Linked DNA regions of Homo sapiens: region 2 is linked to region 1. A link means that fine-mapping ties the variant in region 1 to the plasma level of a protein whose gene starts in the linked region. Region 1 holds a variant in brackets. A gene starts in the other region. All regions are shown on their reverse strands.

Region 1 (16,703 bases):
GACAGAGTCTCACTCTGTTGCCCAGGCTGGAGTGCAGTGGTGGGATCTCAGCTCACTACATCCTCTGCCTCCTGGGTTCAAGCGATTCTCCTGCCTCAGCCTCCCAAGTAGCTGGGATTACAGGCAAGTACCACCACACCTGGCTAATTTTTTGTATTTTTAGTTGAGACGGGGTTTCACTGTGTGGGCCAGGCTGGTCCTCAAGTGATACACCCGCCTTGGACTCCCAAAGTGCTGGGATTACAGGAATGAGCTACCGCACATGGCCTGACTCTTCTTATTTATTTATTTTTTGAGACAGAGTCTTGCTGTGTTGTCCGGGCTGGAGTGCAATGGCGCAATCTCGGCTCACTACAACCTCCGCCTCCGGGGTTCAAGCGATTCTCCTGCCTCAGCCTCCCTGGTAGCTGGGATTACAGGTGCCTGCCACCACACGCCTGGCTAATTTTTGTATTTTTAGTAGAGATGGGGTTTCACCATGTTGGCCAGGCTGGTCTCCAACTCCTGACCTCAGGTGATCTGCTCGCCTTGGCCTCCCAAAGTGCTGGGATTACAGGCGTGAGCCACCGTGCCTGGCCTGATTCCTTCTTTTTAGAGACAGAGTCTTGCTCTCTTGGCCATCCTGGAGTGCAGTGGCCTAATCATAGCTCATTGCAATCTGAAACTCCTGTGCTCAAGTGATCTTCTTGCCTCAACCTCCTGAGTAGCTAAGAATCAGGTGCATGTCACTGAGCCCGGCTAATTTTTAATTTTTTGTAGAGACAGAGGCTTCTTTATGTTGCCCAGGCTGGTCTTGAACTCCTAGCCTCAAGCAATTCTCCCATCTGAGCCTCCTAGAGCATAACTGATTCTTAATTTGGGGCCTAGCTTGTCCTTTCAGGAGGTGAGGAGCTGTTGTGGGTTGAATTATGTCCTCCCCCCATGATGTATACACTGAAGCCCTCACCCCCAGTACCTCACTCGGAATGTGACTGTATTTGGAGATAGGGACTTTAAAGAGATAATTAAATTAAAAATGAGATCATTAGGATGGGCCCAAATCCAGTGTGACTGGTATCCTAATAGGAAGAGGAGATTCTAACAAAAACCCACACGGGAAGACCGTGTGATGACACAGAGGGAAGATGGCCAAAAAGAGGGGCCTCAGGAGAAACCCACCCTGTGGATACCTTGATCTTCGACTTTCAGCTTCTAGAGTCATGAGCAAATATTAATGAATGCCTGTGGTTCAAGCCACCCAGTCTCTTGTACTGGGTTACAGCAGCCCTGGCTGACTAATAAGGGAGCATACAGTATCAGAATCTGCACAAGGGCATGCTTCATCTCTATTCTCTATTATAATACAATGCTTAAATATGAAAAAATGATGGCAAGAAAACCATTACAAGGAAGAAACCCATAATGACTGGCGAAATCCATACGGAGAGTGGAGCTGTATCAGAAAATGCCAAAGTAGTCATGATGGGTCAGGTTTATTGAGAAGTCCCAGTGGGCTGAATGCAGAGCTCAGTGTCTCACATACATTTTCCCCTTTTGTCCTCACCACAATCCTGTGAGCTATGAGCTGTTGCCCTCTTCATCTTGTAAGCAAGGAAACTGAGGCAAGGAAGTTAAGTGACATCCACGAGATTTCAGAGCCAGCCAGGGTCAGAGCTGGAATTCCAAGGCAGGTATCACTCTGCAGACCTAAGTTGTTTCTTTGACAGCCCTAAGCCCTTGGGAGGTTGGGGGCCAGAGAGGGGTGGTTGTAGGATCTATTACGATAATTGGTTAAAAGATATTGGGACACATTGCCTTAACGATGTTTTGGTTCCATCTGCAGAAAGAGGCTATAAAACGTATTGAGTAGAGTGAAGATGTCACTCGTAAAACAATGAGTATCACTCATATTACAGAGCCCTCAGGATCTGTGAGCCCTGATCCAAGCCCTGTACATACCTGCCTATTTCTAACTCACAGAGGCCTGAGCAGCTTCCCCAGAGCTTCTGGGAGTTCTGCACCCAGGCCGTCTGACTCCAGCACCTGGACCTCTAACCACTGGGTAGGCACTGCCTTCCCTCACGAGCCCAGCGCCTGCCTAGCATCTGCTTCTGTCACAGTGAGGGAAAGATGGTGGCTGCCATTTGAGCTTTTAAAACAGAAAAATACTTTGTCCCCCAAATTTCCTCCCTTTATTACAAACATGATTTATGATAAATGTAAAGAATCTAAAAACCAAATCAAAGCTAGAATAAACATTATCTGTAGTGCCACCCCCTAAAAAGAATTACTTCTAGTATTTTTGTCAGCTTTTCTAGTCCTTTTTCCCCCTATAGAAATATACTTAATGCAGCCATAAATATACTAATAAGTTTATAGGCAGCAGCACTCATTAGAAAAGAGCAAGAGCTTTGGAATAAGACTTGGGTTTAAATCCATTTACTAGTTGTGTGTATTTGGACAAGTTATTTTATTTCCCTGTGTCTCCATTTGCTGTCTGTAAAATGGGGATAATAACACTTCATTGGATTTTGCAGTAGCCTAGCATATGTAATGTGCTTATTCCTGTCAGCTGGCACACAGTAAGTACTCAAATAACTTTAAAAAGTAGCAGTTTTGGGCTGGGTATTGTGGCTCATGCCTGTAATCCCAGCACTTTGGGAGGCCAAGGTGGGTGGATCACGAGGTCAGGAGATCGAGACCATCCTGGCTAACATGGTGAAACCCCATCTCTACTAAAAATAGAAAAAATTAGCCGGGCATGGTGGCAGGTGCCTGTAGTCCCAGCTACTCTGGAGGCTGAGGCAGGAGAATGGCGTGAACCCGGGAGGCAAAGCTTGCAGTGAGCCGAGGTTGTGCCACTGCACTCCAGCCTCGGTGACAGAGCGAGACTCCATCTCAAAAAAAAAAAAAGCAGTTTTGCAACATATCATTCAATAGACATTTGGTAAGCAGGTATGATTTGGGGCTCACGTTTCCTTCTATGCCCTTGTTTGTTTTTACAATACTTTTTAATGGTTGCATAATATTTCATTATCATATGAATCAGAAATAGTTTTTAACTGACATTTATTTTTCTGTTTTCATATACTAGATAATGCTGTGATGTATTCCTTTGTGACCTTGTAGTTGAATTCTCCCCAGTGATTACTATTTTGTTAAAAGCATGCATTCCTGTTCACTCCTTACTCTTTGGAAGGGATTCTAAGTCTTGTTGAAGCATATCACCACCCAACTGGAAAGGCGGTGTCAGTTTACCCTGGCCCTGGCTGTGCATGAGAGTACCTGTTTCTATTTGTGAAACTTTAATGTAAAATTAGATCAATGGGCATGAAAGAAAACTGGGGCATAATTAAGTTCTGTGGTTCGCTGACCCAAATCTGGTACCATGAAGGACTGGCAGCAGCTCACACATTTGAGAGAGGAGAGAGCAGCCGGGGACACTGTTGTTCACTTAGTTGTGTGGTCCAAGCAAAGATGAGAACAGCAGCTCTCAGGTGTGGAGCCGTTGCTGGTTGACTAGGCATTGAGCACAGTGCTCTCCAATTGGATAATTTAATCTCAGCAATGCTTGGAGGTAGGGACTTTCATTAGCCCCATTTTATAGAAGCAGAAATGGAGGTTTAGAGAAACTGTAAAGTGTGCAGAATTACAAGGCTACTCTATGGCAACGTTGGGAGCTGAACCCAGGTGCCCTGATGTTCAGCTTCCTGCTCTTGTCTTAGGATATTAGTAATGGAGGTGGAAATCTGGATGCAAGAGCCAGCACTGAGCCTAAGTCAAGGGCAAACGTGGTAGCTGGCTGGTACTGAGGGGAAGGACCAGCTTCCCCCAGTTGTTCAGCTTCCTGCTCTTGTCCTAGGATATTAGAAATGGAGGTGGAAATCTGGATGCAAGAGCTAGCAGCGAGCCTAAGTCAAGGGCAGACGTAGTAGCTGCCTGGTACTGGGGGAAGGATACCGTGGAACCCCTTAGTTGGAAAAGTTATCAGCTAGTTGGAAAAGAAAACCTGGGGATTTGGCAAACACAGGGAGGTGAGGAGGGGGAGCCAGTGTAGGGAGCGTGTGCGGATTCGAATAGCAGATACGCCGCCGTGGAGACAGGAGATGTAAAACTACCACTTGCCCTGTTTCAAGGTTTACATGCATTATCCCACTTAATCTTCAAACCACTCCATGATGTAGGAAGTATCATTACCTCTGTTTTGCAGCTGATGAAACAGAGGCCCAGAAAACTTAAATAGGGTTGGACCACGAGTATCACAGCCAGGATCGGACCCCAGGCAGCCAACTCCCAACACTGCCGAAGCCAACTGCGAACTAAGGCTCAGTGGAGAATTTGCAACCTGGGATATATTTGTTGGAAGTGATTGCTCCCTCCTTTTGAACTTTGCAGCAATTATTGTCTGTAGAATTCATCTGGCAATTAATCATGTACTCCCGGTGACAAGGCTCTTATTGTTGTCTTGAAATGTTATTTAAATCGCACATTGTTATTTAACTTCTTGCCCAGAGAGGCAGACTGTGCCTGGGTATCCCCCACCTCACCCAGTGCATGTGGTACCACAGTGCAATAAATGTTTGATTTAATTTCATTTGAGAGGCTTCCGGGCGGAAGTGATAATCTCATCCTTTAGACTTTAGTGACAGGTGACATTCGTGGAGGGGAAGAAGTAGGAGAGGAAGGGGGACGATGCCCACAGTTGTGATTCAGAAGAAAATGGGAGAATTGAAGGGAGACCGAGAGAAGAATAGAAAGCATCCCTCTTCAGGGCTGGGCGCAGTGGCTCACGCCTGTAATCCCAGCATTTTGGGAGGCCGAGGCAGGCAAATCATGAGGTCAGGAGATCGAGACTATCCTGGCTAACACGGTGAAACCCTGTCTCTACTAAAAATACAAAAATTTAGCCGGGCGTGGCGGCAAGCGCCTGTAATCCCAGCTACTCTGGAGGCTGAGGCAGGAGAATCGCTTGAACCTGGGAGGGGAGGCGGAGATTGCAGTGAGCCTAGATTGCACCACTGCACTCCAGCCTGGGCGACGGAGTGAGACTCCATCTCAAAAAAAAAAAAAAAAAAAAAAAGCATCCCTCTTCTACAGTCCAATAGGAGGACTGAGTGCATGCCTCATATGCCGTCATAAACTCCCTCCTTGTCTCCTGTCTTGGGGGAGATGTCCTGTCTCATTTCCAAGCTGCACTACCAGGGGTGACTTGGGTCCTTGCTTTTCTGCTTCCCGGGTTTGCCTGACTTCACGCAAGAAGCCAAGGGTTTTAGACAGTGGGAGGCAACGTAGAGGTCTGAACAGAATTATAACTCTATGTTGCCAGGTTGTCTTTATTTTGGGAACCATTCCAAACGTTCCTACTTTTCCTGTTTGAGCTGTTGGAAAAATGGTACTCAGTAGTATTCACTGGTGGTTAAGGGACGAGGCTTGGGTTTCAGAAAGATGTGGCTCTGTCACTGACTGTGGTCTTGGGTAAAGGACTTCCCTTCACCAGCCTTGGTTCGTTCATCTGTAAGATAATAGCATTTACTCTTGCCACCGTTATAAGGCTTAATAAGAGGGTGGATGAAAATGCTATGGACAGAGTACCTCATGTGCAGTGCAGCACAGGCTTTGCACATGTTAGTTGGTGTTAGAACTGGAAGTACCCAGGAGAATATCCAAAAGTCCTACGACCGCATTGAACACCAGGGTGAAGGACCAGCGTGTTCCTTTCCTTTCTCATATTTGCAACAGAAATGTCACCACTTGGGCTCCGTGACACTTTTCTTGATGACATTGTCCTGATCATCAGCTCTTCCCTTGGCGCCTCGAGACATTTCCAAACCACATCATTCCACACACCCTGGAATGTGCACGTTTCCTTTGTCAGAAGGAACTGTGGCCATCAGACGTTGGACAGCTCTGAGCCGGGTTGTTTTCTTCTCATCTACTTACTGTTGTGCTGAAGTTTGGTTTTATTTTTTAATGTAAGAATTGTCTGGAAGTTATTCTTCAGTCATTTCATTAGTCATTTACTTTCTTGGTTTTGAAAATTGAGGAAAAATTACTTTGAGGCAGTGGGTCAGATGAGCGTGGCTGGCTGGGTAACCCATTTCCCGCTGAGTCACCTGTCTGCTCAGACAACTAAATGCTGAAGTATGCTTGATGACTAGTCACTGGCCAACGTCATATTAATCTGAAATTTCGTTTCTGCTCCTTTTAAGTTATGGTAGCTTTGGTTCCTTGGTGGGTTTTTTGAAAGTGCTCCAAGTATTGTATTGATTGGATGATGTAGCCTGGAATTCTCGGTTATCCCCCAAAGTGTTTTTTTCGATTTGAGGCATAAAATTATGACATAGTATTGTTCAAAAAGATGGGATTCAAATGCCTTCATTTTATAAGAAGGGAAACTCAGGTTCCGAGAAGCTCACTGACTTGCGAAACATCTCAAACAGTTGTTGGCAAAGCTGGGATGGCGTTGATCTTCCTGGGAATTTGTGATGTGTACTCACCCCCTGGGTCTTGCTGCACTTCTGCTAAAACTACCTGGAAATTATTTATTTTGGTCTTCTTCCTTGATAGAAGAGAATCTGAAAGTCAGGAATAGTGGCTGCCTCCAAATGCCCTTGGCTCCTTCTCCTGACCCCCTAATGAGCATGTCCCCAGAGCATGTTATAACCTTGGAAAACAAGGCTACTTAGTATGTTTGTACTCTGATGCCTGTATGTTCTGTACATGATCTGGCCTGAATGATGGATGAGGCTCCATACAGGCTTCCTGTGTCTTCTGCCATTCTCCCCTCCCTACAGTACCATACCTGACGAAATAATAACATCGAGTCACTGAGGAGGTTTACCATAGTGTGGTGCTACAACCTTAATTCGTGGTGTTTTTTTTTTTTTTTTTTTTCGAGACAGAGTCTCGTTCTGTTGCCCAGGCTGGAGTGCAATGGCACTATCTTGGCTCACTGCAACCTCCACCTCCTGGGTTCAAGTGATTCTCCTGTCTCAACCTCCCGGGTATCTGAGATTACAGGTGTGTGCCACCACATCCAGCTAATTTTTGTATTTTTAGTAGAGATGGGGTTTCATCATGTTGAAATTCTGTTTGCTTTTTAACTTAACTTGAGCATAAGCTTAGAAGATGATTTGGGGGCTGGGGGCTTTATTTATTTTAGCAAGTAATTTGGCCTGTATTTTTATTCCTTTAAGTAATTTGTAACTAACTACAAAGGCCTCTGGTAAGATGGCTTTTGTTTCTAGTTGGAACATGGAGACCAAGAGAACTCTCTAGAAAACAGATTTGGCTCCACTGCTATGGGACTTCACACTTACCTCCACAGAGGGGCTCTTCTGATGCCTCTATGTAAACAGCACTTTTAAATCCTACTTCAGGGACCATTGGTTTTCTCTCAAGAGATATGTTCCTTTTTTTTCTTCTCTTAACTCTTTTGTTATTTTACTCCTTTTCCAATAATGGAAGGCTTTTCAGTTTTACATTAGAGGCTACTACTTGTTTTTTTTTTTTTTTCTAATTGTAAAGCAGGCAAAAATCATCACAGAAAACAGATCTCAAAAGAATTGCACTTAGTGTTGTGACCTAGTTGGTTTCTTCATTCTTTGAAACATTATTTGATTTTTCCTCCCGTATTAGCTGTTATGTATGCCGGTTACATAACCTTAATTTTTCATGGAAAATATGGATGTCATCAATTAATAGGACTACCCCTGCTGTTGTTATGGCTGGCTTCTTCTAGAATGTTCCCACTGGGGAAACTGAGGCTTAGGTTTGATACTGCAGGATTTGCCATTGTAATGTTTTCCTTTTAGTAACATCATCATTATGAATATAATTCTTGTTCTCATCCAGTAGAGAGCCTTGGTTACCGGCAACCCAGTTCAAGCCTTTGAATAGATACATAGGGATCACCTCTCTAGTGTGAAGATGAAAATAATATAATTTGTTTACCACCTTGAGTTGTTTACCACAGGCTGTGAAAAATATGTTTTGAATTTAAAAGTGTGAAAAACAAGTGTGCTAGCTATCAAAAAAGCTCTCCCCTCAAAGTAAACATGTTTATAGAGCAAGACTCAAAACAAAATACTTGATAAGCCTAGCCAATCAAAAGAAAGTAAACATGTTTACCACAAAAGCCTTATAAAGAACCCAGATGGCAGCCAGCTCTCTGTTCACTTGACCGTCCTTCCAGGGAGCTGCAGAGGCTCCCCTGGGCCTTGGGGACCGGGCCGCCACTTGCCCTGCTAGCAGGGGGCCTGCCTTGTGCTAGCTGTGCTCAGTTAGCTAGACCCAGTTTGCCAGTGGGAACGGAAGGTTTGTGTTTTCTGCCATTTAATTGAATCATGAGTGGAAGGTATTTGTGAAAATGATTCTGGAGTTCCCATGATTCTTAAAGAGCAACTTGTTATAGATAGGGTGCCAAGTGGGCTTCTGGGGGACTCTTCCTGGCTCCCCAAAAGAGCCTTCCTGATGAGCGTCACGCCTCCCAACCTTCTGTGTTCCAGGCGCTGTCGTGCCACCATCCAGGATATAACCTGCAAATCCCAGACCCTGCCTTGCTGATCTCACTCTGCGAAAGAAACCAAAGAGCTTGAACAGGAAGTCAGTAGAAAAGACAAGGCCATCTTGAGGGATACCAGGGTTTTCAGGGCACTGGGTACCACAATATGAGTCTTAGATGATGTAAAAGACACCGAGTTCAGAAACGTGAAGGTGGATTGTGTGCACTGGGAGGAGCAATGGATTCAAGGTGGTTAGTGGCATTAAATTATTTTGACTATAGTCACCTTGCTGTACTATCAACTACCAGGTCTTATTCATTCTTTCTATTTTTTTGTACCCATGCAATGAACATTTTCTTCGAAAGGTCATGTTGTTGTTCAAAAGTGTTTTCACCTTTTGGGCTGGGCACGGTGGCTCACGCCTATAATCCCAGCAATTTGGAGGCCAAGGTGGGTGGATCATGAGGTCAGGAGATTGAGACCATCCTGGCCAACATGGTGAAACCCTCTTTCTACTAAAAATACAAAAATTAGGTGGGTGTGGTGGTGCGTGCCTGTAATCCCAGCTACTCGGGACGCTGAGGCAGGAGAATCGCTTGAACCAGGGAGTCGGAGGTGGTGGTGAGCCGAGATGGCACCACTGCACTCCAGCCTGGCAACACAGCGAGACTCCGTCTCAAAAAAAAAAAAAAAAAAAAGAAAAGCATTTCAGAGTTTGGATTTTTTTGATTAGTGATGCTCACTCTGTAGTAAAATACCTGAGAAAGGTGTTGAAGAGCATTTTTGCCATTTATTTATTTATTTAGAGACGGAGTCTCACTCTGTCACCCAGGCTGCAGAGACTTGATCTGGGCTCACTACAACCTCTGCCTCCCGGATTCAAGCAATTCTCCCACCTCAGCCTCCCGAATAGCTGGGATTACAGGCACCCGCCACCCCACCTGGCTAATTTTTATATTTTTGGTAGAGACAGGGTTTCACCATGTTGGCCAGGCTGGTCTTGAATTCCTGACCTCAGATAATCTGCCCATCTCAGCCTCCCAAAGTGCTGAAATTAACGATGTGAGCCACTGTGCCTAGCCATCCTTGACATTTAGAAGTAACTGCCAGTTGGCTGGGCAGGAAGCGGTGGTTCCCTTACATGTGACTATGAATAGAAAGGTTTCCATGGATCTTGGAATCACGGTGGAGGAAGGTGATGGTACTTTCCTTGAGGGTAGGTGACAGGTGAGGTGGGCTGTTGGCAGAGGAACGACTTGGCTGTAACAGGAATTGAAGAGAGACCAACTCTTTCTTTTTTAGTTGCTTGAAGTTGAAAGATGTAGAATGAGTGGCTTCTGGAAAAGGAGAGAGGGGACATCTTTAAGGGTAAAAGGCAAGTCTCTCCATTCATCCAGATGATGGTAGTGGAAGATGGTGGAGAGAGGTGAGCACTAAGGCCCAGGGGAAGGAGGAGTGGAGTTTCTTCAGCACAGAAGGGAGATTCTGGAGTGTTCTGAAGCCAGCAGGATGATGGTCTATCTCATCCCCAAAGAGGGGAAGTGATCAGTTAGGTCAGTTGTTCTCTAGAGCAGGGTTTGGACATAGATGGGGGAATGGAGCAGACAGATGCCACAGGAAAAATCTCACTAGCCTGCGAGTTTCACATGGAATATTCAGGAGATTGTTAGTGAAAAAGAGAGCAATAAACAAACAAACCGAAAAGGTTTCAGGTTGAGCCTCAGAGCTAGAAAAGTAATTACGTAATTCCCCATGTGTTCTAATTAGTCTAGTGGGTTTACTTAAAAATTTGTTTTTGAGCATAGATACCAATAAGTCCTCTGGTGAGTTGAAAGAAACCTTACTAGTGGAAGATTAATAAAAGGAATAGTGATTGGTTAGTTTTAGGGAACTTCACTGAAACAAAGTTAGTTAAATGGGCTTGCCCAAACCATGGAGGTTGGTGTAGTGACCCATTTGGTTAAATCTGGTGACCGTTTTTTACCAGAACTTTATTAGAACTTAGCGCTAAAGACAGATGCTTATTTAGGGCACGTTTGAGTTATTATTATTATTATTTTAAAAACAGAAGTATTATTTGTTCTTCTTTTCCTAGCCTATGAATTGAGGTGGATTGGCATCTTATTTATGAGCTGACAAACACATACCTTTTTTTGCAGCTGATGTGCTTTTTTGAACTGGGTTCAGCATTGTCAAAAAGTTATTCACAGGAGTTGGTGATGGAGCCCGCTCCACCCACTTCTGTTCCCTTTCTATTTTGGTGCCATTTGCAACAAAGGAAACTAAGTTTGTAAATTAGAGAAGGATTGAAGCTCTCACAAATGCACTTCTTATCAGGTTGTGTAACAGATTAGACAGAGCAGGCTCACTCTTGCTGTGGCACGTGGGACCCGAGGAAACATCCATGCAAACTCCATGAGGTGGCCTTGGCCAGGGGACTCCCAAGTTTTCTGGCCAATCTGATTTAGTTGCATTTAAAAACGAACAATTATGAAGATGTATATATCTGCATGTCTGTATGTTTATATGCACATATGTATACTTGTGCGTGTTTATATGTGTGTGTATATACATACGTATATTATGTGTGTGTATAAAATTGCCATTTAGCATTCTCAAACCAAGGGAGATCCAGTGGGCAACACATTGAATTTGACTTTTGCATAAGGGTCCCTGATGGAAATAGATGGCTTTTAGTTCTCCTAGGCCTTAAGTGGACTAGGGGAGGCAGAGGAGGGCTGAAAGAACCCAGAGAGAGGAGTTGTGTGGAGAGAGCTGCCTGGCAGGGTTGCCACTGGTCAAAGAGGGACTCAGAACTAGAGAAATGAATACCCCATCTTCTGTGGCGTCCTGAGATGAGAGCTCCCATTGGTTGGACAGAGAGCGGCCCTCTAGGACACAGAGCTGGGTGGGGGATAGTGAGTGGAGCCTCTGGAGAAGCAGATGGAAACCATCCAATGCATTTTGTTCTGGAAACAGCTATGCAAGGTAACTGCCATAACTCAACCAGGTAACCCATGGGAGAGGTCAAGGTGGGAAATGAACTCCTTCCTAGATCTTCAGGGTGGGGATAGAGCCTCTAGCTTTAGAGCACTGGTTCTCAAAGGATGGTGCCCGGATCAGTAGCATCAGTATCACCTGGGAACTTGCTAGAAATTCTCAGGCCCCGTCTTGGACCTATGGAATGCAAAACTGCAGGAGAGGCCCAGCAATCTGTGTTTTACAAACCCCCCTGGAGATCCTGGTGCTTGGTCAAGATGTCTGTGAGTTGCTGGAGGCTCAGCATATGATGTCAGTTTGCTGAGAGGGCCTTTGTTGGCATGCTCAGAAATGCCCGTGATGAGCATGTTGTCTGTTATCAATCCACTGCTTGAAATTCTGCAGTTCCTCAATCCTCTTTTTTTAGGATAGACATTCTTCAATAGAAATGGAATACTTGATTACATTTAGGCCATGGAGGCCAATACCCAGTGCAGTTCATTCCTTTAATTTTTAAGCTCTTCTCTCAGCTGTGCAGGCAAGTTCCAGGGCAGACTTTTGGAGGTTGAAAAATAGATGCAAATGCTGTCTGTGCTGTTGTTGTTTTCCTGGTGCCTGGCAGTGTTTGGTAAACAACTTGATTGCTAGGTCCCGGCCTCAGGGAACCACAGCTGCTCTTTCTAGCTCCCTGCAGACTTTTGTACTGAGCAGGGATTGCTTCAGGGAAAAATAAACAGGGGAGAACAAAACAAGAAAACATCACTTGTTGTTTTGTTTCTGCCTCTACCTGTTTTTCTGGAGCTGTTTTGCAACCACAGGCCCTGGGATTTGGGTTCCTTTGCTTTACAGAAACAAGGCAGGCCCCGGTGGCATTCCACGCTTCTCTCTCCATGGCTAGACTGTGGCATTTGGAGTAGCCACAGGACTTGGAAAGCGTTGGAAAGGACTTAGTAGCCACTGCCAGAACGCATGCATTTTTAAATATGTAAATTGAAAAGGGAGAAAGCTTCATTCTTTCTAATGACCCCCAAGATGGTAATCTGGCTTTTCAAATCTCTAGGAAAACAGATTGAATATGGCACAATTAATGTTTCAGCACTTCTCGGCTTTTCTCTAAAATATTT[C/T]AATGGGCTTTTAATTTATTGCAGCTCTTGATTAGCAGGGTTGAGGCAGGGTTACTGCTGACCTCCTGGGCCAAGGTACTTCTGGGGCTGTAGTGAAGTGGAAAAGAACAAAGGTTTGATAGTGTTCTCAGCTGGAGCCTCCCAGGGATGAGCCCCTGGGGGTTCACTGAATAATTCCTTCCCCTAAAGTAGTCAGAGAGCAATGCAGTGTTCTTCAGATCTTTATCAGAGTTACCTGGGGTATCTGTTGGGTAGAACAGCAGATTCCTGGAACTTGTTTAAGAATCTCTGGACTATGGAGGGTGGGAACTTGGGCTTCAAGCTGGTGCCTCCCTGCACACTCACATTTGCAGTCCATGGCCTTGGTGATTGATATTGCTACAGTGTAAATACCGTGAGCTGGGGTAGAAAGCAAGTGGGGGTACTGCTACATTTTAAAAAAATGTTTGAGACTTGCACATTGTTTGTTAGTGCATTTACTTTTCACTTACTCTACTTCACAAGTTGGCTGTTCCCTACCTTCTTAAATCAAAAAACTTTCTCCTGGAAATTGTTTCTTTTTGGTCTGAAGTAAGTCTTTTAGAATGTCCTTATAGAGAGGTGATAAACTTCTGTTTGTTTGAAAAAGCTTCTATTTCACCCTCAGCTTTAAGAGATAGTTTTTCTAGTTATACAATTCTACGTAGGCGGGTGGGGGTTTCTGTCATTTTTTTCTTTTCTTTTTTGTTTTTGCCTCTGTACTGTGGAAAGGATAATTTATTTGGGTATCTATCTTCTGGTATTTTTAAAAATTTCAGTTGCTGTATTTTTTTATGTCTAGAGTTCAGAACAGTTAAGTATTTTAGTTAGCTATGGGGTTCCATGAAGATGGAATTCAGTCCTGTGACTGTTGAATTCTTAACAACACACACACACACACACACACACTTCCACACACCACAGTGGTGATTCACCCTTTATTTTTAGATATGCCTGGTTACTTTAAAATATTAGAAGTCAAATAAGACAGCACTAATGACCATACACATAGAGCATTGTTTTTTTTTGTCTTTTTGTTGTTGTTGTTTGTTTCTTTTGTTTTTTTAGACAGAGTCTTGCTCTGTCGCCAGGCTGGAGTGCATTGGCGCAATCTCAGCTCACTGCAACTTCCGACTCCCTGGATCAAGCGATTCTTCTGCCTCAGCCTCCCTAGTAGCTGGCGTCACCATACCCAGCTAATTTTTGTATTTTTAGTAGAGAGGGATTTTCACCATGTTGGCCAGTGTGGTCTTGATCTCCTGACCTCGTGATCCGCCCGCCTCGGCCTCCCAAAGTGCTGGGATTACAGGCGTGAGCCACTGTGGCCGGCCACATAGAGTATTGTTTAACCGATTTATGTCTTAGCTAGAAAGCTGCTACTCACTCCAGTCCGAATGAAAACGAAACTCCCACAGGAAACCTCCACCAGCCCTCTCCTCATGGCTGATCTTTGCTGTTGACTTGCCTACTCCTCACCCCCAAGCCTTCGAGTATGATATTCTGACCTGTGAAATGCGTTTTCCACCCAATCTTCCAATTCCTCCCAAAACCTCAAGATAATGAATTCTTCTAGAAAGCTCTTATCTGCCCAGACACCTACTGTGCTTTTCTGTGTCACCCGTACTGCTTCTCTGTGCTTCTGAATCACTCTGGAATCATAAAACTGGAGACAGTGCATGACCTCATCCATCCTTTGCTACAGGGATTGCAACATGTTTGTTTTGTTTAAATATAACTTATTTAAAAAGTTAGCTGCCATCTTTGAAAAATTCTGGAATTTTACTAAATAGAAATCTAGATTACTGCCTTTATTTGTAGAATTGAAAGCTCTTGAGGTTCTTGAGGGTATGTGCCCATGTGGCAGTAATTGGAGGGGGAAGTACAATGGCTTCCCCCTTGAAGCTGATAAAGTGAGGATTTCTCAGCTTGCCACATTCCTTCCCTCTCCCTGTTACCTTACACCTGGCCTTCCTCGCTCATTTGCATTACCTGCCTGTTACAAAATGTGGCCCATGATTGTTAGTACCAGCATGGTCAGGTAGTGCCAAAATTCACTTGAGCAAGCCTGAGTCAGAAGGGTATATCACAAAAACTCAGGACTTTTATATTAGGGTATTGGCTGGAAAATATAGAGTTCCCATGGGCACAAGCTTTATAGAGTTGAGTCAGGCTGCTAAAACTCCCTGTGCCTCAGTTTTCTTATCCACATATTGAGTTTAAAATAATAATATCTGCTAAGAACTTTGTTGTAAGAATAGAATGAAATAATGATTATAAAAGACTTAAAACAATACCCAGTACATAATGAGTTTTCAACAAATGGCAATTATATTTTTAGAGAGTACCGAAAAGTTACTTCTTTCAGTTGTTGATTCATTTATTCACTCAAAAGATACATATTGAGTACTTGCTATGAGCTGGGCATTTTTCTGAAATTTTGGAGCATTGCGATGAAAAGAAATAGTTCTTTTATCTAATTGAGCTTATATTCTAGTGGGGAAGACAAATGAGCAAATAGATCAGGGCGAAAGCTCTGAAGTAAGCACATAGGATGATATAATTGAGACTAACTTGGAACCTAACTTAAGTAGGTGGGCAGGACAAGCTTTTTGAAGTGGCCTTTGTCCCTAAGTCCCAGTACTGAGAAGGGACCAGTTGTGTAAAGAATGGGCTCATGGCATCTTGGGAAGCTGAGATAGCAAGTGCACCAGCCCTGAGATGGGAAGACACTTGCCTTGCTTGAAACAAAAGGAGGACCACTGTATCTACATTGATTATAGTTTGGGATTGGGTTGGTAGTTAAGGCAGCGTCAGAGAAGTAGAAAGTGGCCAGATTATGTAGGGCCCTCAGGCCATGGAAAGAAATTCAAATTTTATCCTAAAGATGGTAAACAACTTCAGCCCATTTCTTCATTTCTTTTCTTTTTCTTTTTTCTTTTCTTTTTTTTTTTTTCTATGTGACATAGACTTCATGGCTTTAGGGAGCATGTCTGAGCCTTGGAAGTACTTCTTGGATCTCAAAGCTGCTTGGAGGCTTGGAGAATAGGACTTTGCCATTTGACTCGAAGTGTGGTCCATGATTGGTAGTATCAGCATCTCCTGGTAGTTTTCTAGAAATGCAGAATCTCAGGCCCACTCCAGATCTAGTGAATCAGAGTCTTCGGGGATGGGTCCCAGGAATCTGTATTTTGAAATGCTCTCCAAAAGATGCTTATGCACAGAAGTTTGAGAAGCATCAATCTAGAATACATCTGGACAGATTTCTGCAGGACATGGAGCTATGCTCATTGGAGAGGAATGGAAGCCTTTCCTGGGCACCCAGGGGATGCTGCCAGCCGCCGGGATGCTGGCTCAATAGGGTTAGGTACTGGTGCCAGGCTTAGCATTCTAAGCGCTTGAAAAACTCTCTGGTCACAGCACATCTTCAGTGTTGATGGCAGGTCAGCATGAGAGTGAATCATGGTAAAAACAAAACAAAAACCAAAAATCTCTTTTTAATCAGGAAGCTTAAAGGAGAAGTTAATTAGTTTAAAGTATTTAGAAGAAATATGCTTCTTTCAAAAAGACAGAAGCTTAGAGGTAGAAGGAACTTGAAGAGCATCGGTTAATGCCCTGACCCTACAGGTGAAGAGACTGGAATCGAGATGATAAATGGCTCTCCTGGGGCCACACTAGTGACTGAAGACCATACCGGGTCCAGAACTCAGGCTTCTCAGCTTTTGAGCCCTGACCATCGCACCGTATGTGCTTTCTTGATGGAAACATCTCCATGAGTATTGCTCCTTATGTAATCCATAATCATTTTTAGAATAAAATAGAATTATTTTGGAGAAAAAAATGATGATTACCTTTCCTACTAGTTTTAATGTTCGTTATTAGTACTAGTATTTCTAAAATAATTTAAAATTATTTAAATTTTTTACTTTTTTTGTTCTTCGAAAAAGATCATAACTTAATAGGGAATGGTACATTTATCTGTGTAATATTTTAGTTAAAACAGTTTATTGTTACCTGAAGACTTGATAATGGGAAGTGGTATTTTCATATGCTAAAATATTTAAAATATTTGGTACAAAGCCCATAATAAATAACAACTTTA
Region 2 (16,703 bases), not on the chromosome of region 1:
TGGATGATAAACTCCTAGAAAAAAAAGAATGGTGCTTTGCTTGTCCTTAAAACCTACGGGTCCTAGTAGAAGGAAGACACATTATAAACACTTGGCTACTTGAGGCAAGTGACTTGGCTTCTTGGCATACTCTAAACTGCACTAGGAATTTGGTTTATTTCCTACCAAATGACTTACAAGGCCGAGATTAAGTAGTTTAGAAACAATCTTGTCAAACACGGCTCTGTCATTTTCTTCATAAATCCTGGCAGCGATTTTATGGACAATGTCTTCAGCGGTTAAAGGAGTCCCGTCTAGTTGATGAAGACCATCTGGATCATCTAGACAGAACGACCACAACTTCACACCATAGTGATCATAGATCTATTTCATGCATCATATTATACTTATAATCTGTACTTCGCTTTTGTATATTCAGATATGTTTGAAATGTATTTATGGTGGTTCTCGGTCCACAGAAACCCTCGGTTTGAAATAAAATTGGTCTTCATGTTAAAAACTTAGTATGATAATGGACATTCTGAAACTTTCTTAGGTGACTATAAGAGGAAGGAAAAGCTAAAGGCAACAGAAAAGTAGTCTCCATTTATTGTTATCACCAATAATACAAACCATATTATACTTTTTATTAACATAGTATGCCATATTTATATAGCATGTCATATTATTCAATGTACCCTTCTATATATTGTATGATTTGATATTCCAGTTCCATACAGGGAATAGATAGTTTGGTAATATCCCCACATGTACTACCTTTGCAGGCAAATTCCTGGGGTAGGGGCAGGGACTTCTACCTCACACCCAGAATCAGACAGTGTGTACTGAAGATTTTATGACTCACCTAAAATAAATATTTACTTCTAATTGAACTTGTATTAGAGTGTCTTTATGTAAAAAAGGCAGCTTAAGGTGACAAAACTCATCCTTAGAGAACAGGGATCTTACTGTAGTTTATGTGCCCGGAATTTAAACTTTTAAAATATGGCAACAGATCTGCACAAAGCAATATGTAAATCTTTGCAGAGAAGCATGCTCATATGCTCCCTTGGCTCTCCTAGGAATACATTTGGCAATACAACTTCAGACTAAAGTAAGGGCCCATCCTGAGGGAAAGGGCTGGTGGCAATGAAGCATTGTAGCACATCCATGGAGATCTTCCAGGAATCAATTATTAGTCATCTCCAATCTATACTACATTGAATGGATCAAATTTACAATGCACTTAATTCTCCCTGTTTCCTCTGGAAAGATTGGAAAGATCAGAATTTTAGCCCCAGTGATATCTCTGGTTAGCTATATCCTTGGATCACTGTAAAGGAGTCTAACAAGGTATCTATTTCATGGGATTGTTGTGCCATTAAAAGTAATGGCAAAAACCGCGATTACTTTTGCACCAACCTAATATATGAAAGCTAATGTATTATTGTTATTATGCACAGTGGATTTGTATTTTGAAACAAAGGAACAGCAATTATCTCCTAGAGAAAATGGAAATTGAATCTCCGGCCAGATTCTGCCCAGACAATCCTCATCATATTCACTCAAAGAAAGAAGAGCCTAGTATTTCTATTCTGATTCTGCTCTTTTCTTCCATGGGTTTTGGGGATTTGGACAGGGAATTTATCCCGTGGCTTTTCTTTCAGACTCTATGAAAATAGAGGTATATGCAGCCTCAGGCAGAATATCTCTTTCTTGTTTGGAAAGAAGCTTAGGAAAATGAGTGGGGGTAATTATACATGGAGGACTGGAAGTTCTCTGTCAGTACAAAATTGCTGAGCTGTTGGCCAGCCCATGAGCCATGAGCCCTTTGAGCTGAGTACCAGAGAGACAAAAAAGCAGAAAAGCCCCTAAGAAAAACAAACAAACAAACATACAAACAAACAAACAAACAAACATAAAATCAGTTCTCCTCCTGGCTGGCTGAAAATTTGGATCGTCATCTATTTTTCAGGAGCAGAGACTCACTATTATGTGTCTGATTTTTCCATTTGCGGATTGCAAGTCAGGCTGTCAGGAATACATAGAGCAGAAACTGCCCCAGTCTATGCAGAGGTGGAAGAATTTATTTCCCTTCCCACTTATCTATCCCTCAGGATCCGTAAAAGGAGGAATATTGGTTGCCTCCTAGACCTGGAAAATAACTGAGATGACTGTTTTTCAGTCCATTTACTTCACAACAGGGAGGATGTTAGTAACCCACTGAAGAGTCTTTGCTCTGCTGCACTGCTGTACTCTCTTGAGCCAGGAACTTAGGTCTCCCCTAGCAGTGCTTTGCTGGATGGTGTAAACAGTGGAACGTGTGACCATTGCTCCTCACCTTTCCCTGATTTCCTTCACTATTCTAAAATGGATAGTATGACTCAGAATGGCTTCCCTCCTGCTCATGAAGGGGTATTTCACCCTCCATGTATAGACTCCCAGAGGGGAGCCAAACATGGGTTTAACACATAACTTTTGTTAAGTAGCCACAACATTCTAAGTGAATGTCAAAGGGTCATGTCCCAAGTCATCATCTGCCCAGTTATGTTTTGAATCCCTAGCATCTAACATAGCACTTGACATTCATTTGTTCAATATATTTTAATTAAAGTCTTATTATGTGTCAGACACTGGAAATAGAGTGATGTAAAGGTTAGGCATGCTCCCTGACTACACAGGGTTTATTGTCTACCTCATAGTCCAATACATAGCAATTGCTCAATAAATATTCGAATGCATACAGGAGCCCCAAAGCACTACTTTATAAGAGAAATTTGGAAAGATCCTAAATTGTGCATACTATAGAAAACACTGAAAAGGAGAATTGATGGGTCCTATAGTACAAGCCTGTTTGGAAGCTTCCTAAAGGCGAGAGTAGGTCTGGGAACACATCCGGCAGAAGTTAGCTTCCTTTACCTTCCCCTCTGGGATGAAGTCTACATGCATCTGAGGTTCTATTCAACTTAGTGGCCAAAAACCCTCTGGTTTCAGGATTTCCAGAGCACAAGGGGAGACCAGAAGCTTACTCACAAATCATTTTCTCCAAGAACCTTGGCCTGTCTTCTCTGTGATCTCAAGTGGAGTTAATACCTCCTACGGTAAACCTGAAGTCATTAGGACTAGCACTTTGTAGTTCCAAACATACTTGGGATGGTAATAAAATGTTGAACAGTTAAAAAATTAGTTGCTCAAATTAGCGGTCAGATCAAAAACAGATCTATGTCTCTGCCTGCATGTACAACAAGTTTGACCAATCCAGCCAACTCAATATTAGGCTATTTTATTAAATCAAATGATCACTTCAGTTGAAGTGGTTGAATCTGTTTTGTATGCAGTTATAATCAGTGTCTATTTGTAGTCCCAATATTTTAGGTAAAAAAGTCGAATTCAAGATTTTAAAAAGTAAATTTCCCTGAGTAGCATGGCATATGATATATGTCAAAATATAAACCCATTGCCTCCATCCCACTTCATAGGTACACGTGACACTTCAGAACACTCCTAGGTTATTATGTCCTATGAAAGTCCAATTTAATAGTCAGTTGTTTTCTGGCAGAGATAATCAACATAAATCTCCTGTAGCTATGGAACAGAATAAGGACAGGGAAGAAAACCTGTACTTACTCCTAAGCACTGGTTCTCAAAAATGAAAAACACACTTTCCTTCTTAATGCCTAGGTATGGCAGTTCATTTATTCCCTCATATATTATTTCATTTGTTCATTCATTCATTCATTCATAAATTTATTCAATGAATTCATGGGCTTCCAGGCACTGGGGTTACAATGTCTCTATTCTTATGAAGTTTTCAGTTTAGTTTTGGAGAAAGGCATTAATCATAAATAATCACACTTATGAAGGTAAAATTACAAACTGCATGAAGTGCCATGAAGGGCAAGAACAAGGTTTCTATCAGATTATGTGTGCAGGATGAACCTAGAAATGTAGTCAGGAAGCAGTCCATGCAGGACTGTGCAAGCTTCATTAAGGACTTTGGTTTTCCTGTTTTGTTTGTTTGTTTAAGATGGAGTCTGGCTCTGTCGCCCAGGCTGGAGTGCAGTGGCGTGGTCTTGGCTCACTGCAGCCCTTGTCTCCTGGGTTCAAGTGATTCTCCTGCCTCAGCCTCCCAAGTAGCTGTGACTACAGGTGCCCACCACCACTCCTGGCTAATTTTTGTATTTTTAGTAGAGATGGGGTTTCACCATGTTGGCCAGGTTGGTCTTGAACTCCTGACTTCGGGTAAGGAAACTACCACATTGGCTGCCAAATGAAGAATGAGTTGGGGAGAGGCGGAGTGGTTGCTGGGAGAACTGTAGATTTTGCTATAGTTTACATGAGACATAATTGGAGCTTGGACAAGGATTGGAGTTTGGACAAGTACAGAGAAAAACAATTGAGAGATACACAGACATAAAATTAGTAAGTTTTGGCAGATTAGAATTTGAGAGGTGAGGGAAAAGATAAATAGTTTGATCCTAGATTTCTGTCTTTAAAAAACTGGATGGATAGTAGTGCCTTTCCTAAAGAAACAGTACTCTAAGAGGTCTAGGTTGTGAAGTGGACACAGATTATGAGTTTAATCATGGGCATGCTAAATTTGAGGTGCTTCTGACACTGCCAAGGGAAAATGTCGAATAGGTAAACAGATAAATAGGTCTATAGCTAAGAGAAGTCTGGCCTAGTGATATGGGATGTTAGGATATAGATGTAATTGAAGCCACGTAAAGGTTAGGATGACCTAAGGAGAAAAGATATGGCTAGGAGGAAACACTGAAAAGGAAATAGTGGATATTTCACCTTTTTTGTGCAGGGTGGGAGGGTACTTTACTGATCTAATTATTTGAAAATTATGATATTTTGTGTGTACTCATTGTTAAAATAAATCTGAATGTTCAAATGAATTTAATACCATAAAATACAAATACTAGATTAAAAAATGTTTTCAGAGCATCACTAAAGGAATTTTTAAAGGGAAAATAAAATATGGCACTCTGTGGAGCTGGGGCTCTACATGTTATCAGTAAATATATGCTTTATCTCAATTTTGGACTTGACTAATAAAGGATTATGAATGTTTAAAAGATATTTTTAAAATATTGGACTTTCTCTTAACCCATTATAGGAAACTCCACGTTAACAAAAAGTTCTTTTTTTCTCATTTACCTTGAAATTTATGATCCAATCCACTCTTAGTAGAGTCATAATCATCGATCAGTTTTCGATTCTTGGTTGAATCAACATCTTCCACATTCAACTTATTATCAAGTGGGGAGCTTCTTATAGATTGTCTTTCTTTCTCAATTTTTTCCTTTTCTGTTATTGCCTTTAGCAGGTTCAAGTTATCAACAAAAGAATAGTTGCTCTGACCTGGCTTGTTTTCTGGAAGAATAGCCCCAAACCCAACACAGCCATTTTAGTTCAGATTCTCATAGCCTACATTATTTAAATTAACATCAATATGATTTCTTTTTACCTGGAGGATATGTTTTTTTAATCTTGTCTTCTTCTGCTTCAGCAATCTGTGAAGCAAACAGGAGATAGACTTGGTTTAAAATCATTGCTCCACTACTTACCAAGTACAAGAGCCAAATGATTTAATCTCCATGGGATTTAATTGTCTTGTTTGTAAAATGTGGATAATTCCTATTTCAGAGCACTGTTATAATAATTAAATGAGATAAAATTAAGGGTAGATGCTCAGTCAGTGTTAATTTCTTTCTCCTATAATATTGTTGAAAGAGAAATCTCTGGTAAATTAGGCAATCTTACAACAGAGTGGATGTGATGCTGAGCTTACTGGGTTATTATATAGTTACTCTATGTATTCATTATACAGAACTCAATGTAAATAACTGCTAGGGCATAGAATTTACCAAAACTAGATTTCCCGTCCTAATTTCTGTCAATTAACTATTAAGTTCCTGATGTTTGTAAATTCAAAATGACCAAAATGTCACAGCATAATTACATTAAATAATAATAACTAAATCAAAATGAAATAGCATTCATAATGTTACTTTTGACCTACCTGTTCATTCAAAGGTCTTTCTGCACTTAATTCTCTATTATGTAGAGATTTGTCTAGAATAAACACATGTGAATATAAATTTAATTGTGCGTTGAAGGACAAAATATGCCTCTTATTAAATAAAATTTTTATAAAAAGGAAAAATATTAGGAGAAATAATTTTGGATGACTATGAAACAAATGCATATTAACAAAGATTATCAAGATTATACAATAATAGTAATTATCAATATTGCCTTGTTTATTATCTTGGTGTATTTCTTGAGCTGACAGAATCACACTTTTTTTTTTTTCTGACCAGAAATTTAACATATAGTTCTAACACTAGGGTTATCAGCTATTCTCAGCTAGAGAGAGCATAATTTGGATTGGTATTATTGGCACACTAAAAGCTCTTTCATCATATACTGCATATATAATGAATAGACTGTCTGAGAAAGGTTGTAAGGCAACTAGAAAACAATCCAAGCCACTTTAGGTGAAAAAGGTTCCCTTCCCTTTTCAAAATAAGATCTTTAAAAACAACCCATATTATTGCTCTATCATTTTAAAAGTGAAGAAAAAAAATCTGTCTTCTGTCTCTAAATTCGAACTGATTTCTCTGTCCGTATTCATGGATATGATTTGATCAGAAAACGCGTCAGGGTGATTTACAGCTCACGTATTATGCCAAACTTTACCTTTTCGTGGCGAAATAAAAGGAAGGTAGGAAGAAGAAAAGTGTTCACATACCTTGGCTTCCTCCAGGTTTGGGGAAAGCTTGAATCGGGAGCACTAACACCAGAATCCAAGTGCCGGTCCCGAGGAACCCCATTCTTCCACGCTCGGCTTGGGTCACAGCCCGGCGCTGGGCTCCTGGAGCTGTAGCTTTTGTTATGAATGAAAAGGAGGAGTAAAAACAGGAAGAGCCAGGAGGGTGGGTGTGGGGCGGGAGAGGGGCCGGGACTGGGCGGCTGCAGGATCTCTGACACTCGACGGTCAAGGGATAAGCAGGGTTGGGGCGCGCGGGAGTCAAGTCTCCAGGTAGAGGGGAGCGCTGTCCGCCCTGTGGGTGCTGAAGTTCCTGTGACGCGGAGACTGCGCGCCAGGGCGTAGCTTTACTCTCGCTCCCTCCTGCAGAGGAAGTGAGGAAGGAAGCGCATGCTCCATGCACGCCAGAGGCGGGAGGGGATGGCGTCGGTGACTCCAACGCTACTCCAATCCCCCGGGAATGGAACAAAGGAGGGGCGACCGGCCAGCTGGTGTATTTTCTGTGCTGCAGTCCTAGGGTGCTCCTGGGCTCAGGGTCAGCTGGCTTGTCCTAAGCGTGACAGAATTGTCCCAACCTCTCAAGTAAATGTTACTTCAAGGGCCAAATGCCTTCTCTGCCTGTGCACCTGTCAAGGAGATTTAGATAACCTTGTGCGAGGAGTTCTGCTTCGGGATTCTTCTTTTGGGATATCTGCTCCAGAATCCCTTCCTTCCATTCACCTCCTGTACCCAAAAGGTAGATATAATTATAATCTCTTTAGAAAAGCCCTGCCTTTTGTGGTCTGTGTTGACGTATCAAGCATCCCTCAGCTCTACCGAGGCTTTTGAATTGGGAAATTCAAGGAACAGTCTTCCAAATAGTCAGATTGCTGCAATACACTCTCACTCTCTGATGCTGAAACACAACAACAACAGAAACAGTCCTGAGTAGACGAGCAGCAATGGCAAATTCTCCTTTCCCCACCAAGTGGAACCTCCCCCACTTTACACACACACACCACACAACTAAATTAGAAAAAAGAAGCTGCATTTCTGTAAAATCTTGCCCAGAATTTAATTATGCCCAAAGACCTGGCTGTTCCAGGGGGTCCTTCAAGAGAGGGGATAGTCATGAAAAGCATTTTTCATCTTTACTAAGTCAGGGAGGTGCTTCCTATGTTCTGAGAATATTCCCAGAAGCCTAAGGTTATTGTATACAAGGAACTATCAAAAGACTTTAAATGATGAAAACAAGCAACATTAATGTGAGCAGGATGCTGAGTAAGCTCTTTAGTCTCTGATTTTTAAACAGAACTTGGACCTTTTCCTCTGGACTGCGGCATGCTGGGAACCAGTCTGAATAATGACCAAAGAGAAGGATTCAGCACAATCAGGCCTTTGATTTCTGCACCCTCCTTTTCAAGGAGGAAGTTATTCAAGTACCTAAAAACAAACAAACAACCAAGCTGACAAACAAATCTCCCTTGCTCCGGAGGTTTTTGAGTTTGGAAGTCACTCAAATACTTCCTTTGAGGATCTAAAGAGTATTCTAAATCTAACAGCTCCTTCAAAACAAAAAACTCTTTATTGGCAGTAATAACATAGCATTATTATCCCAGTATACTGCATTAAAAAATTAAGTCATATTTTAAAATCCCAGCTGAATGAAGGGTATATTTCCTTAGTTTCCTTTTCTTTATGATGGAAATGACAGGCTCTGTTTACCTCACACTGTTATTATGAAGATCAAATGGGTACATGTTTTGAACTAGTCATTTTGATACCAAGAATATTTTGATACAGCCTAAGAAAATAAGTCATGAAACGTTTTCAGCTTTTATGAAACATTACCCAACGCTATCTGAAATAGCCATTCACTGATCCTGAGACTCACTGACCTAATCCCTCAGCTTCACTTTGTCCTTTGTCCCATTCCTGACTCATTTATCTCCTCAATACATGTTTGCAATTGGGAGAGATTCAGGATGGGATGAAGGTCAGGGATGTCTGTTGAGTACATTGCATTGCTTGCCCAAAAGAAAAAGGGTATTTTGTCTCTTTCTGCCATTTGGACTTAAAGTGATTATGTTAAATGGACACTAAATCTAGGATCATGTTATGTTTCTGATCAAATGAGTGGTGGAGCATTGAGTAAAACATAGGCATGAATTAGTTTACATTATTCAGCCTTATGGATGATACCACTGGACTTAGTATAGGTCTGTGAATGGAGTAATCCTAAATTGTATTTATTCATCAATTCACTTAACAGGTGTTTATTGAGCATCTGAAATGTACCAGGTATTGAGATAGTTGCTGGGTGTACAAAGACAAGTAAGACACTAGTCACTGCTAGTCCTATAGCCTAGTAGAGAGAAAATATTGTGAATATAACAACAACTATTTGGTGAACAGGTTTCACATGCAACACACTATTCTTATTGAAATATAAGTGAATGAATAAGTACAAGAGAGTGTTATGTGTCCTTTTTGTATTTGCAAAGCTCAAGTAGAGTCTGTCCAAATAATGGAATGAATGGTCAGGAAAGATTTCAAAGAGAAGACAGCCCTTTTATTAATAATAAAAAGATTAAAATATTTGATTCTTATGTGTGAGAACACTATAAACATGGAATAATATGAAAATATATGTTGAAATTACAAGACAAATAACATTGACACAGATCAGATAATTATTAAATCAACAATGTACAATGCACAGTGAGTTTGTCAATGCTGCTTGTTCATTTGTCAACACAAATGGAACAATTGTGGTGCGCTCATTCACTAGTGGAGAATATTATTTTTGAGCTGAGTCTTGAAGGTAGAGACATTTGTAGGATGCTTTCATTTATTACAGAAAAAATATATTAATTATTATTGTATTTTTATAGAAAATTTCAAGCACAAAAGTAGAGGAAATATTGAAATAAGCATGCATGAATCCACTACCCAACCTCAATTATCATTAACTCATGACCATTCTTTTTATTCTATATTTCCGTCCACTTCATACCCCAATGAGTTGTTTATCCATTAAAAACCCCAGACTTCATCATGAGGTCAAGCGATTGAGACCATCCTGACCAACATGGTGAAACCCCGTCTCTACTACAAATGCAAAAATTAGCTGGGCGTGGTGGCACGCGCCTGTAGTCCCAGCTACTTGGGAAGCTGAGGCAGGAGAATCACTTGAACCCGGGAGGTGGAGGTTGCAGTGAGCCAAGGTCACACCACTGCACTCCAGCCTGTGAACAGAGAGAGACTCTGTCAAACAAACAAACAAACAACAACAACAACAAAAACCCAGACTTCATACCATTTCATCCATAAGTATGTCAAAGTATGTCAGTATATTTATGTAAAAGATAAGGATTATTTTTTCTAATGTTACTGCAATGCTTTTAACATACCTCCTCCTCATTATAATAATGCCATAGTATCATCAAATATCCAGTCAGATTCAAATTTCCCCCTCTTGCCTCATACTGTAAATATTTTTACAGTTGGTTTACTTGAACCACGATTGCATTTGGTTGACATGTGAGAGACACATATGAGTAAGAATGGAAGGGCAGATGTTGCAAGGTTTTCTTTGACTTCCTAGATGAGATCATTTCTTCCTCAGGATACCATGCACACTCCCAGTTGGGCATATATCCCATATGCTGCTTTGTGTAGATGCTTTCTTTCTCCTTATTTCCAAAATAATAAATACATATTGAAGGAAAAACTTCCGAAAATACAGATAAGGAAAAAGGGGAAATATCTGATAGTGATAACCAATGCAAACTTTAGGGGTATGTCCTGTTGTTGCACATTTTTTCTAAGAAAACTTTACACATATATTTATAAAATTATATCTCTCACTGTGATTACATGCTTACATATCTGGCTTTCTACCACACTAGACTGTGAATTTTTCAAGGAAAGGATCTTGTTTCACTCATCTTTGATTTCTCAGCCCTTCTTACAGTGTCTAGAAATCCATCTGCTTAAATAAATGAAGGGATGGGGGGTTTCCTGTTTACCTTTGGTCTTCAAATCCTGAGGCTATGATGGCTATCCCACATTGGAGGATCTTGACACTGTCAGGACAATTCTCCACTCAGCACTTTCATTACAAAGGCGTAGTCTCACAGAAGAGATGTTCATGAAAGGGCTAAGAATAGAGAGCCTGAGCTGGCAAGGCCCTTGCAGTTACAGAGTTATAGGAATGGATCTGTTGCTGTGAAAGAGACTGACACAGGATGCCAGCACTAGAGGTGGCTGCTGATATAGACGAAAGGAGAAATAAATGTGAAATCTAGAAATTCACCATCAGAGGAAAGTTGAAATAACAAAGAATAATGTAAATGAGCAAATAACAAGACTTAAGGAAAGTGAAGGCATGGAAATGAAAAGAAAAGGGCACATGAATAAGGAAAGTGGGCCCAAATGACAAGATCATATAGGCCACCTACAGACTGAAAGGTGCCAGAAATAAATCTGAGAGTGGGTAGGAGGAGAAAGTAGTAAACTTGTCTTGTTCACTTATCTTGCTTGTACCATAGTTGAACCAGATTGGGTCAGTCACCTACCCTGGGGGCATAGGAGGAAGATGCAAGAACTATGTTTGAGTGTTCACTCCAGAACCACAAGGGTAGAATGGCTTCCCAGAAGGAATCAGGGTGAGGCTATAAAGTAAACAGAAAACAACAGATGCACATGACACCATTAAATATAGTATTTAAAATGAATTAGCATTATTGAGTGAAAATATCAGGTTGCCTATCAGCAATGTGTTTCCTATTATAGAAAGTGTGTGTGGCTGGGCGCAGGGGCTCAGGCCTGCAATCCCAACGCTTAAGGAGGCTGAGGCAGGAGAATCTCTTGAGTCCAGGAGTTTGAGACTGGCCTGGGCAACATAGGGAGACCCCATCTCTCCTACCCCCACAAAATAAATAAATAAATAAATAGATAAATAAATAAGCTGGGCATGGTGGCGCATGCCAGTAGTCCCAGCTACTCAGGAGGCTGAGGTGAGAGGGTCACTTGAGCCCCGGGTCTGTAGTGAGCCATGATTGCAACACTGCACTCCAGCCTTGTTGATAGAGTGAGACCCTGCCTCAAAAACAAAAAAACAACAACAACAAAAAAGTGTGTGTGTGTGTGCACATGCTCATACCTAGAAATTTATCTGGAAGTCTATTTCCCATAATATTTACAATGGTTACCTGGTTAGGATTTTTCTTTGTTCATTATGCAGTTCTGAGCTCCTTATATTTTCAACATGAGTATGTACTATGCTGTTTTATAATCAGAAAAGAACAATAAAACAACACAGTCTATGTAAATAATTTTATATACTACAATGTTTCATATTCCATTATGTTTCAGACAATTGTAATAAACTGTTTTCATTTGGGATGTGAGAACACATTGTGATAAGGTCAGTGGAAGGGAAATTAAAATTTGGTGGGAGGGTTTTTTTGTCTTCTCTGACACTCTGCTACTACTTGAGTGCCATTCTAAACAGTTTTTCACAGTGTACTGTCATTACTTACATGTCCTTTTCATTGTAACCTCCTAGAGGGGAGGGACTTGTCAGTACTCATCTATTTACCTCAGTGCCTAGCGTATGTAGTAAAGAGGTCATAAGTGTTTGTTGAATGGAATCTTATCATCTTATGAATCTATCTATAGCAGTTCTCTTACATGAGACTTGGTACCTTTTTTCCACGTGTATTCCAGGAGTATATTTCAAGTGGCCAAACCGCACAAATTCCTCATTAGCCCTGCCCATTCCCTCATTTTCCAGGGACAATGCCGCCAGGTAGACATGGGCATGCTTGAGGTGGGCTAAGACTTCCCAAATGCTCCTCAGGTTAGCACCCACCCTCTGCCCTGTGAGGCTCTGGAGCTGGGATTTGTGGCACTAGGAATTTGGAATAGGAAACTATTCTAGTTCTTCCCCCTGTTCAGTGATGCAGGTATGGGGGTTAGCAGGGAGGGAGATAAAAGGTACAAAGTGGCGTTTCTTTCTATAGGGTTCAGCCTTGGGGAATCTGCTAAAATACAGAGGGGATGTGCTCCCTTTTGAATCTTCACAAGGTACTAGCCATGCAACGTGTGTTCAGCTTGCATGAAGTTAAGGCCATTCTTGACCCCCTTCATTAGTGTGGTGGTCAGGCTGGCCCTGAGTGAGCTGCTTCAAACTCTTAGAAGTGTTGGTCAAGATCATCTGGATTTCTAAGGAGGAGAGAGTAAGCATCAGAAGCTTGGCCTCTGGCTGCTGGAAGGCACCTTTCTCTGGGTTGTGCAGAGGTGACAGAGCAGTAGGTGCACCAGAGTCATCCTTCATGGACCTCTGAGGTCAGGTAGAGGACAAGGTGGAGAAGGGCACCTGCCCTGACTCACCCCTGTCCTGGAGGTCATACAGATGCTGATTAGTAGCATAGGAATGTGGCAGGGCTAAAGGAGTTAGAGACTTTGCTCAAAGTAAGGGGCTCCACGAAATCACTGCTCTCTGGGCCTACTGTGACTATTACAGGGTGGCAGGAATTGGGATTCCTCTGTCATTAGGTGTGGTGGGCTTTGAGCATGAGTTGTTTCTGCTCCATGGTTATAATGAGTGAAGATGATGAACAAGTGCCAAGAATCATGTCTTAAAGGAAGGCATGATTGGAGTTGTGATCAATGGCATAAACTGGGTCACCAAAGCAAGAGATCCAAAAGCAAGAACCAGAGCTCACTGCTTAAAGGGGCAGCGAAACTCAGTGAATTGATGAACCGGAGTACTAGGAAGAAGGTTGGTCTGGAAGAATTTTTGACTTGGTGCTTAGGCACCTACAGTAGCTTTTTATGCAGGTTGTTTCCTGCTTTGACTGGTTGTGCCAGATCCATTAAAGGAACTGAAATGGACTGGCTGGGATATGTAGAAATGGGTACAGTCTAAGCGTCACGCCAGCACTCATGGCAGACCTTAGCTCTCCATTTCTCTTCTTTATGAACGCAGTGAGAGGTCTCCACAGGGCAGAAGGATTCCCATTTTAAGTTCTGGGTTTTTTTTTTTAATGTTATAAAAAGTATTTGTTTGTTTGTTTGTTTGCTTTTTTGAGACTGGGTCTCGCTCCATCACCCAGGCTGGAGTACAGTGGCATGATCTTGGCTCACTTGAGTCTCAACTTCCTGGGCTCAAGCGATCCTCCTGCCTCAGCCTCCTAAGTAGCTGGGACTACAGGCGTGCGCCACCAAACCTGGCTAATTTTTTTTTTGTAGAGATGGAGTTTTGCCATGTTGTTCGGGCTGGTCTCAAATTCCTGGGCTCAAGCAATCCACTTGCCTTAGCCTCCCAAAGTGCTGGGACTACAGGTGTGAGCCACCACAACTGGCCCCTTTTTAAGTTCTTATCTATAGATTCTAAGAGAGTCTAAGTTTCTAAATTTCAGATTCCATGAAGTAGTATTTCCTCTACATCAGTATCTGGGGCCTGGATGTGATAACTCAAAGAGAATTTCTCCCTAGAGGTCAACCCAACCATAGACAGTGGGAAGCAGCTTCTATCTAGTTGTACCAGATCCTGGTTGATAAAAAATGATAGCAAGGGACTGAGGAATCAATGTCCAGATGCAGGCAGTCTCCAATGGACCAAGGTGACAGTTCTTGTTCCTTGCCTTGGCTCCATGTTAGATTCCTCGGAGGGAGCTTCTAAAGTCTTCCCAAAGAAAAACAATGACCTAGAGACTGATGAAACTCTGGCCCGGTAGCACTAGAGCATTGTCCAAAGCTGGGCTCTCAAGTGAGTGGTAATGGTGGCTTAGAAGCCCCTCTTATGTGTGGCACGAGGGCTTCCTTGATCCATGTGGGTTTAATCCACTTACCTGACTCATGGTTCTGGAAGATTAAAAATATCTGGAAATCTTGCCTAGAAAGTTGAAGCAGCTCTGAGAAAAAACCAAGTCCTTAAATGGTGTGTATGTCTCTACACTTTTTGGTTCCCTGCTTTAACCCTGATTTCATCTTTTATTGCTGTCTCCCTTGCTTTCTTTAATCCAGCCATGTTAGGTTCCTTGCTTTTGCTCACACACAACAGGCCTGCTTCTTCTACCTCAGGATCTTTGCTGTTGCTGTTTTCTCTTCCTGGAATGCTCTTCCCCTAGATATTTCCATGACTCAGTCCCCTACATACATTATCTTTCTGCTCAAAAGTCATGTTCTTAGGAAGTCCTACTGTCTCAAGTTGGGTTTCCTGGAAAGCCAACTCTGAAGTGGAAATTAGTATGCAGGAAGTTTGTTAGGGAGTGCTCTTGAACCAACTCCTATGGAAGAGAAGGAATGGGAAAGAAGTAGGATTTGGCAGAGGGACAAATTGAGCTGCAATGCAGTCTCAATAGAAGACCTTGCCAAACCTACAAGGAATTCTAAAGATGAGAGGACTCTTCAGAGCTGTCCTGAGCTGGAGTGGGAGGGCTCAGCTTTTACATTTCTGTGTAGATCAGTCACGGGGTGTGAGCCTTTCCAGCATGACCTCGGATGAAGAGGTTCTTTTCAGCAGCTGGAGGAATAAGTCTTTGTGTCCTGAAGGGGGATCTGAGGAGTGTATCTCAATGCTCACCACACATACTCTGGCCCCCTATTTAAAATTGTAACCCCTTCCCCTGCAATCCCCCTTCTTATCAGTTGCTTGTTATTTCTCCATTGCACTTACCACCATCCAGTGTATTGCACCTTCACTTATTGTTTTTATTTGTTATCTCTCCCCCACATCTAGAATGTGAGATTTATGTGGACTGGGATTTTTGTCTGCATACTATTTTTCATTGCTGTATTCCTAGCATCTACAATAGCATCTGACTTATAGTAAGTGCTCAACAGATATTGATGCCTGGAATTTGCTTTAAAATACCCAAGAAAAGAAAATACACAGTTAGATAAATAGATAAAGAGAAAAAATAAGAGTGGCTATTAGTTGATAATTATTGTTTCTTGGCAATGAATACACAGGCGTTCAATATACTATCCTCTCAAAATTTTTCACAATAAAAAGCTTTGTACAAAAGGTTTATTTTAAATTTACTCCTCACTGAGGGAGGGAGTAGTAAGAGAGACTATTCTTCTTTCCTCTTCCTTCTCCCAGTGGTATTCTGAAAATACAATTTAACATCTTCCTCAGTGGAGCAGAAAATCAATAACGTTGCTCTGGTGCTCTAAAGCCCATCCTCCAGCCAGTCGTCCTCCGGTGACCCAAAGTGACTTAGCTGCCAACTCTTCTGCAAGATTAGTGGTGCAATTAACAATCCTTGAAGAATTAGGCCAGCATTTCTTGTCAGACACTACATAGGTATACTTCGAATGAATGTAATCTGAGAAACTAAGAGTGATTAGTGATTCCCCCCGGCCCCACCTCCCGCCCCGCTTTCAATAAGGCATGAAACAGTGGCCAGGAGGAGCCTGTGTGAAAGTCCTCAGCTCTTCCCAAAAGAGAGGATGGGTTGTTGACTCATGGAGGGGGCGGGGTGGGGGCAGGGAAGAGAAACCAGCAGTTCCTTTTTCTCTGCTGCTCCTGTGGCCTGTCTGACCTTCTTTCTTTCTACTCTCCCTAGCTCCCTGAGCTCCAGGCACACTGGCCTCTGCTGCTGCTGACATGGCCAGACCCACCCTTACGTTGGAGCCTTGACTGTGACCCTCTTGTCTACATGGTTTATTTCCTCACCTTCCCCAAGCCTTAGCTCAAATGTCACCTTCTCAGTGATGGGCTTTTTAAAATTGCACCCTCTTTCTCCACTCCTGTACTCCAAACCCCATGACCTTGTTCTACTTTTTAATTATTCCTTGCCACTTGTCTCGTTCAAGCATGCTATATAATTTATTTATCCATCTATTTATTATTATATAATTTATTTATCTAATAATATAATGTATTGATCCATCTATTCTGAGTGCCTATAGTAGTGCCTGGCATGTAAATAGTCATGGAAAAAGT

Which allele goes with the higher level. Positions count from the first base shown, and alleles are read on the strand shown. Strength reflects both the effect of a copy and how common the allele is.
As copies of C replace T in region 1, the plasma level of the protein whose gene starts at base 7,077 in region 2 goes down (weak association).

The links. A credible set is the group of variants that fine-mapping cannot tell apart. PIP is the posterior inclusion probability: the model's chance that the variant is causal. Protein levels are from antibody-based Olink assays in UK Biobank. Linkage for the fine-mapping came from a reference panel and not from the study's own genotypes, which makes the PIPs less certain.
Region 2: it holds the start of SCG3, and the variant in region 1 is the best candidate, but not a certain one, in a credible set for the plasma level of the SCG3 protein (UK Biobank, PIP 0.73).

Annotation. Positions count from the first base shown.
Region 1 is chr3:71,493,772-71,510,474 of GRCh38, reverse strand. The region is part of intron 2 of FOXP1 (forkhead box P1); the gene reads left to right. Among named protein-coding and RNA genes, the nearest start is that of MIR1284, 40 kb to the left of the region's middle. RefSeq lists enhancers at 5,660-6,859, 12,088-13,026. The variant C/T (reference allele first, on the strand shown) is at 12,587.
Region 2 is chr15:51,671,877-51,688,579 of GRCh38, reverse strand. It overlaps SCG3 (secretogranin III), which reads right to left and starts at 7,077. Exons shown (of 12, transcript NM_013243.4): 1 at 6,743-7,077; 2 at 6,011-6,063; 3 at 5,456-5,501; 4 at 5,146-5,361; 5 at 178-320. The coding sequence starts at 6,824. RefSeq lists a cis regulatory region at 16,062-16,379.